2 linked regions of the Homo sapiens genome follow. The protein of the gene in region 1 interacts with the protein of each later gene in a pairwise test. Each region holds a gene or a part of one and is shown on either strand. Other genes may lie near its edges. The genes, in order: BRPF3 and NCK1.

Region 1 (3,093 bases):
CTTTACTTCAATCCCAGGAGGGACAGACAGGCTGGGAGAGAGAGTTTTGATCAAATTACACACCTGGTGGGTGGGGTAAGGTGGTTCTTCCTTAGAGTAAACTCCTAACCAGAACAGCTGCTTTCAGCTGCTTATCTTGAGAGGGATGTAGTGAAATTGGCAGACAAGCAAAGGTAAATAATGAGAGCAGTTTATTGTAAGAAGGGGCCCACTGGGACAGCGTATAGGAAGTAAGATTGCTCTGTCTCTGGAGAAGGCTGCTTCCTCAGTAAGTTCCTAGTCTTTGCTCCCAGAGCTATTAGCTGTCTGCTCTGGAAGCAGGGGCTGTGTAGGAGGCAGTGGGCTGTGGAGGCCCAAGCCTTGTTTGGTTTTAGTACCAATGTGGTTTTAGCCAGCTACATTCTGCTTCTGTGCTTGGTGTTTTCCTCTTGTCAGCTAACACCTGTTAGCAGACTTCTCAGCATCAGCAAGAGATTGAAATGAGATGATGTGTGAATAATTAGGAGCTTTGGAAACTTTGAAAGTGCTCCCTAGACCTGGATTTTGATTGTTGTGTTGATGCTGCCAGGCATTTTGCTGAGCACCTGCCGTCTCTGAGCCAGGCAAGGTGGGGCTGGATGCCAGAAGCAAACCTGAAGGAGAAGGGCCCAGCTGCTGCCCTTGTGGAGCTTATTGCCTCAAGGATTAATGCCTCCAGTGGCCCTTGTTTCCACCCACATCATACCCCCCTCTCCATCAACCTCCAAGCTCATTCTCTAGCTATACACTGAGCCTCCTCTCTGATCTTACCATGGAGGTGTCACAAATATATCTGGTCCATGTATCAGGAAGGATTGTAGTCAGACAGGAAGGTAGTGGGTAACCAGAGACCTCGTTAGAACCAACTGGATGGCCTTCCCGATGCAAAGCCTTCTTCATAGCCGTGGTACCTAGGGAAGGCCCCCAAACATTTGAGGTGAATTGCAAAGGTACTAAGGGGAAATTGACAGGAAAAAAAAAGTGACCTCTACTCTTCTGTCCTAAGGGACATTGGAGGAAGGGGTTTGCCTGTCTGGTCTGGACATCAAAGATATCCCACTCAGGCCTGATACTCCCCTGGTGTGGGTGCTTCAGCAGTTGGTCCTGCAGCAGGGGCACTGCTCACCCTGGCCTCCCTCACTGAGTGCCCATCTTCTATTCTGCCTCCAGATCATCGATCCCAAGATGCCCCGGGAGGGCCTCCTGCACAATGGCGTTCCCATCCCTGTCCCCCCGCTGGACGTGCTGAAGCTGGGAGAGCAGAAACAGGCAGAGGCTGGAGAGAAGCTCTTCCTTGTCCTCTTCTTTGACAACAAGCGCACCTGGTTAGTGGGTGCTGCTGTGAGGGGGCTGAGGGGCACGCCAGGGGTCTGTGCCAGTGGTGCTGTGCTAGTGAGGTGTACAGAGGGGCCATGGATGTTACCAGTTACCCTGGTCTCCACTTGCCAGCAACAGGCCTGCACTTGGCATGTTAATAGTAACTGAGGGGTGTTGCAGATCAGATTCCCTGGGAAACACTCTGAGGTCGAGACTTGCATCAGGAGGCTATTGAGGAGAGCTGTGGGGCGGGAGCGATGCAGCACTGGGCAGAAGTTGAACTACAGCCCACTTGCTGCCTCAGCTCATCCACTGGGCACATCTGGAGCTGGGTGGCTCAACAAGATAAGAGATGTCAGGAATTGGGCCTGTGCCTTTTTGCCCTGTGCCAACTAGTTATTCAATGCCACTGCCCTGAGGGAGGGGTGTGGCCTGGGCCTGAGGCTTCCATGGTGGAGAGTGATTCCTAGAGAGGGACTCAGATGAGAGCCTGTGAGCTTCCAGCACTTCCAGTAGCTTCTGGGAAGCATGTTTCCGTCCTGAGGGGGGTTCTGGCCAGTGCAGTGTCCGCTACAGGAGACTTGCTCATTTATGGTTTACAACACTTAAGGTTTCTCTTAGCACCAACAAGAGAGTGCTTTCACCTTAGCTTCTATAGAGTGAGGAGGGAGAACTAGCTAATAAAAACAGTGATAATAGTAGCTGCCATTGAGTGCTTACTCCATGTCCTTATGCAGATTGCTTTATATATCTGATCTCTTTTAATCCTCATTTAAGTCTTCATTAATCCCCTCATAATCCATTTTGCAGATGAGGAAGTTGAGGCTCAGAAAGTCCAGACCCTGTAGCCAGAACTAAGATACAAAACAAGATCTTGCTCCAAAGGCTGTATCCTTAGCCACATGTTATATTCACCCGGGGAGCTTTAAAAACACATACACAGTGTGCAGGTCCCACCACAGATGAGTTTATCAGTTCCTGGCATCAGCTCTACTTCCTAGCCATCGCCCCCTAATTCTCCAACGCAAGGCGAGGCTCAGAGCCCTCCAGGGTGGCTCAGCTGGCCCCAGAGGGCAGCAGGTGGGCCTTTCTTAGCCTATGGACCCTTACAACTCTCCAAACAGAGTAAGGGCCCAGAGAAGGACCTAGCTGCAAAATTGATTCCATGCCATTCCCCCACCCGACTCCTGCATATCCTGCTTGCTGTCCTCACCTGCTAGGTTCTTGGTGGCCTCCTGCATGGAGTCCCCCAATTTGCTTCCCTCTGCCCTGTACCCTCTCCCTGGCTTTGCTGGTCCTGGCCAAGTGGGGCCACAGGAGCCCGAGCCCCCTGTGAGACCCACTACTGCCCAGCCTCTTACTGTGCTTGCATTTCAGGCAGTGGCTTCCAAGGGACAAAGTCCTGCCCTTGGGTGTGGAAGACACCGTGGACAAGCTCAAGATGCTGGAAGGCCGCAAGACCAGCATCCGCAAGTCAGTGCAGGTGGCCTATGACCGTGCGATGATCCACCTGAGCAGAGTCCGGGGGCCCCACTCCTTCGTCACTTCCAGCTACCTGTAAGGGCAGGGCTGGGCCTGCATCCGCTTGCCCTGCCTCCATCCCGCAGGGCACAGAGAAGCCTCTTCTGCCCCTGCCAGATGTATGGCCGGCAGCTTCCCCCTCTCATGGTAGGCCAGGGACTGGGCTTTCTCCCCACTAAGGGCAAGGCCCCAGTTTTGACCAATCGCATGGTTCTCCTGGCAGGCCTGCTGTGTGCC
Region 2 (3,820 bases), on another chromosome or scaffold:
GGATTACAGGTGTGAGCCCCTGTGCCCAGCCTCTCTTTAGCATTTCTTAGCACAGGTCTGGTAGTGATGAATTCCTTTAGTTTTTGTTTATCTGGGAATGTCTTATGTTCTCCTTCATTTTTGAAGGACAGTTTTGCTAAATATAGAATTCTTTGTTGGCTCTTTTGCTTTCAGCATCAGATCAGATTCTATCCCCTCCCCAGGGCTTATTACTGCTGCTTATTGTGAGTGGTTGTTGTTTGCTTGTTTAGTGACTTTACTAAACTACTTTTATAAGCTCTATATTCCTGGTCATGTGGGGCCGCTGAAGTCTATTCCATTTGCTTAGTAATCAGCTAGGGTTTTAACAGAGTTTCGTTAAACACCTGGAGCCAAAAGAAAAAACAAACAAACAAAAGAAAACCTCTCCCCATCTTTACAGATGGCTTTATGTTGGGGCAGTTTTTGACCACTTAGTGATGCCATTTATAATTCTGCCTTAGCCTTTGCTTACTGTTTGCTCAAAGCCTGAAGATCAGCCAGGGTGAAAGCTTAGGGTCTTCTTGGGCCTTTCCTGAATGTGCATCCAGCCCTGGCCATGTGCACGTCCTTCTTGATTGGTATACACACCCCTTATTACCCCATGTATATTCTTTCCCATCCCCTTTCTGTCCAGGCTTTTCCATCTGTCTGTTCCTTGTCCCAGTTGTTGTCCCTTGCCCCAGGCTGCTGCATCCATTAAATGATTTTTGCAAAAACCACCCAGGAAGACTCCCTATGCCTGGGAATGATTCAAGTCAGGCAAAGCCAAGGCAAGCCATTGCTCAGGTCCTTCAGGGAGCTGCCAGACAAGTTGAAACCCACAATCACAATTGTTTAAGAATGAGATCTGTATTGCTTCCTCTGGCATTAGGAGTGCAGGTTACTGTCCACACAGCCATCACTGACTTGGGGTGTGGGGGATGGTGGGCAGGCAACTTAGGATGCGATAGCACTCTCTTTACCACAAAGCAGCAACTTCTTTCTTTACCAAGCCTTGCCCTAGATTTTATAAGTTTTTTTTTTTTACTAGATTCCAGAGTTCTGCAAAAGTTGAGTCTGACAGTATTTACCAGCTCATTAATTGCATTCATTGCTTTTTGCAGGGACAGTGCCTTGGAGTTCCTTACTCTACTATTTTTGGTGGTATCACCCCAAATGTAGGGATTTCTCTGAAGGCTATCATTAACCGGAAGTAAGAAAATTAGGAAGGAAGAAGTTGATTTAGGGGTATAGACTGGATTATTTTTATTTGGACATGAGTGTTGGGTTTGAGGTACTGATGGCACAATCTGTGGGTGTCTAGTGACAGTTGGAATTGTAATGCCTGAATTCCAGAAAGGTCTTAGAGCTGCAAAGAGATCTGGGAACCTTCTGCACAGAAATTATAGAAAATGAAAGTGTATGATTTCCTTGGAATAGAGAGGAAGGTCAAGTATGTCATCTTGTGAAACACTTTCAGCTAAGGAATTCTTCATTTATTCATTCAGCATGTTTGCTGACTGCTGAATACATAATTTTGTTTTTCCTTTGTTCCTACTACTGATGTATGTACTGCTAAGCGTTGGAGACAGAAACGAATAAGATCTCGTTTTCTGCCCTCAGGAAGTTCACTCATATTGAGGAAGACAGACAAGTAAACAAGTACAATGCAGTGTTATAATAACAAGGTTAGAGGAGCCTAGACAGAGGTAAACAAGAATATGTAAACAGGTTGGGAGGGAAAATAAGAAATTCGGGGAAGTCAAAGAAGAAGAAAACATAATGGAGAGAGTGGGCTGTGATCTTGGTTGCTGCATATAGAGTTTGAGAAGGCTGAGGACTTTAAAAGTTACTGATTTGACAGTAAGGAGAGATGACATAAGAATGGTATTCATAAGAATGGTTTTAATTGAGTAGTTTTGTTAGAATGTTGGAGACAAAGGATCAGATAATAAAGAGTTGGGAGTGTGAGTGGTGAAAAAGTCGAGGGAAAAGGAAAAACAACCTTTTTTTTTTTTTTTTTTTTTTTTTGAGACAGAGTCTTGCCCTGTCGCCAGGCTGGAGTATAGTGACGTGATCTTGGCTCACTGCAACCTCCGCCTGCCAGGTTCAAACGATTCTCCTGCCTCAGCCTCCTGAGTAGCTGGGACTACAGGTGCACACCACTGCACCCAGCTAATTTTTGTATTTTTAGTAGAGACGGGGTTTCACCATGTTTGGCCAGGATGGTCTCGATCTCTTGAGCTTGTGATCTGCCCGCCTCAGCCTCCCAGAATGCTGGGATTACTGGCATGAGCCACCGTGCCCAGCCGGGAAAGACAACTTTTAAAAGAGTGGTATAGTTTATTCTATAGGAAAATTGGACCAGTTAGAGAAAAAATAAATAAATTACCAAAATGTTACGGTTTAAAAGTTGTAGCAGAGTTAAAGTAACTTCATTTTGGAGTAGAAAAGATATGAGTGTGTTTTTAGACAATTGAAGGGACTAAATAGGAAGGAAAACAAGGATGTCGAGAGTCCCAAGAGAGTCAGGAAAGATAGTATTAAGATCCTAGAAGGATCAGGATTTGGAGACTTGAGTGAAGAACGAGAGTGAGGATAATGAGAGTTTTGAGACAAAAGGAATTTGAGAAGTTTTACCTAGGGAAGCCTCAGTTTTCTAGGTAAAGTAGAGCATAAAATCACACGCTAAGAAATGGGCAGCAGTGAAAATGCCTGACTGAAGTTGATGTAGCGTACATTTGTATTGATAGTACCATTTGGTGATTTTCTCATTTCTTTCAACACATATGTGTTAAGCATTTACTGTGTACTAAGCACTATACAAGATCCTTGGGATTCTATCTGTAAACAAACAAAACTCCCTGTCCTTTTGGAGGTTACATATGACTGGGGTAAGGGGAGAAAAACAAATAATATTTTAAAATAAACATATGAGGTAAATAGAGCTACCTGGGTCTGGGAACCAAGAAAGCAAATGGGAAGATTAGCCAGACATAACTGCAATTTTATATTGCATATCATATTCTGATTTAAGATAGAAATAATTTTATTTTTATACAGCTCATTGTAGAATCTAGCTTGCTTAAACTAAGACAAGAAGAGTATGGGTGTGGTGGAGCCTTTGTGTACTTAGATTGTAGCTATGAAAGAAATCTATATTTACATTTAAGAGGGAATTCATTAATTTAGGACAACTTTATAATTATGTTATATAGTTATTTCAGGGCCTTTGACAAGAGAAAAGATGGTGAACTGTCATATAATAACAAATTAAATATTTATTTGGTTAAGAAAAAGAAAATTTGCATCTTATTTCCAAAAAGATGATTTTTAACTACATAGAAATTTGTTATATTTAAAAGCTTTAAAGATCTATATAGAGTTGAAGATCTCTTTTTAATAATGAATAAGTTCATTCTTTTGGTAATCATTTTTTTATATTCTCCTCTCATGGCCCTTTTTAATTTCAACAGGCATTGGAAAAGTGAAAAGAAAACCTAGTGTGCCAGATTCTGCATCTCCTGCTGATGATAGTTTTGTTGACCCAGGGGAACGTCTCTATGACCTCAACATGCCCGCTTATGTGAAATTTAACTACATGGCTGAGAGAGAGGATGAATTATCATTGATAAAGGGGACAAAGGTGATCGTCATGGAGAAATGCAGTGATGGGTGGTGGCGTGGTAGCTACAATGGACAAGTTGGATGGTTCCCTTCAAACTATGTAACTGAAGAAGGTGACAGTCCTTTGGGTGACCATGTGGGTTCTCTGTCAGAGAAATTAGCAGCAGTCGTCAATAACCTAAATACTGGGCAA

The links.
Region 2: the proteins of BRPF3 (region 1) and NCK1 interact in binary tests that used the Homo sapiens proteins (3 or more experiments, as listed by UniProt).

The regions. Positions count from the first base shown.
Region 1 is NC_000006.12:36,227,714-36,230,806, forward strand, and holds part of BRPF3 (bromodomain and PHD finger-containing protein 3), read left to right. Parts: intron 1-1,188; coding exon 1,189-1,343; intron 1,344-2,145; coding exon of another isoform or gene 2,146-2,146; exon of another isoform or gene 2,147-2,712; coding exon 2,713-2,896; 3' UTR 2,897-3,093. UniProt on the Homo sapiens protein: Scaffold subunit of various histone acetyltransferase (HAT) complexes, such as the MOZ/MORF and HBO1 complexes, which have a histone H3 acetyltransferase activity.
Region 2 is NC_000003.12:136,942,107-136,945,926, forward strand, and holds part of NCK1 (SH2/SH3 adapter protein NCK1), read left to right. Parts: intron 1-3,476; coding exon 3,477-3,820. UniProt on the Homo sapiens protein: Adapter protein which associates with tyrosine-phosphorylated growth factor receptors, such as KDR and PDGFRB, or their cellular substrates. Maintains low levels of EIF2S1 phosphorylation by promoting its dephosphorylation by PP1.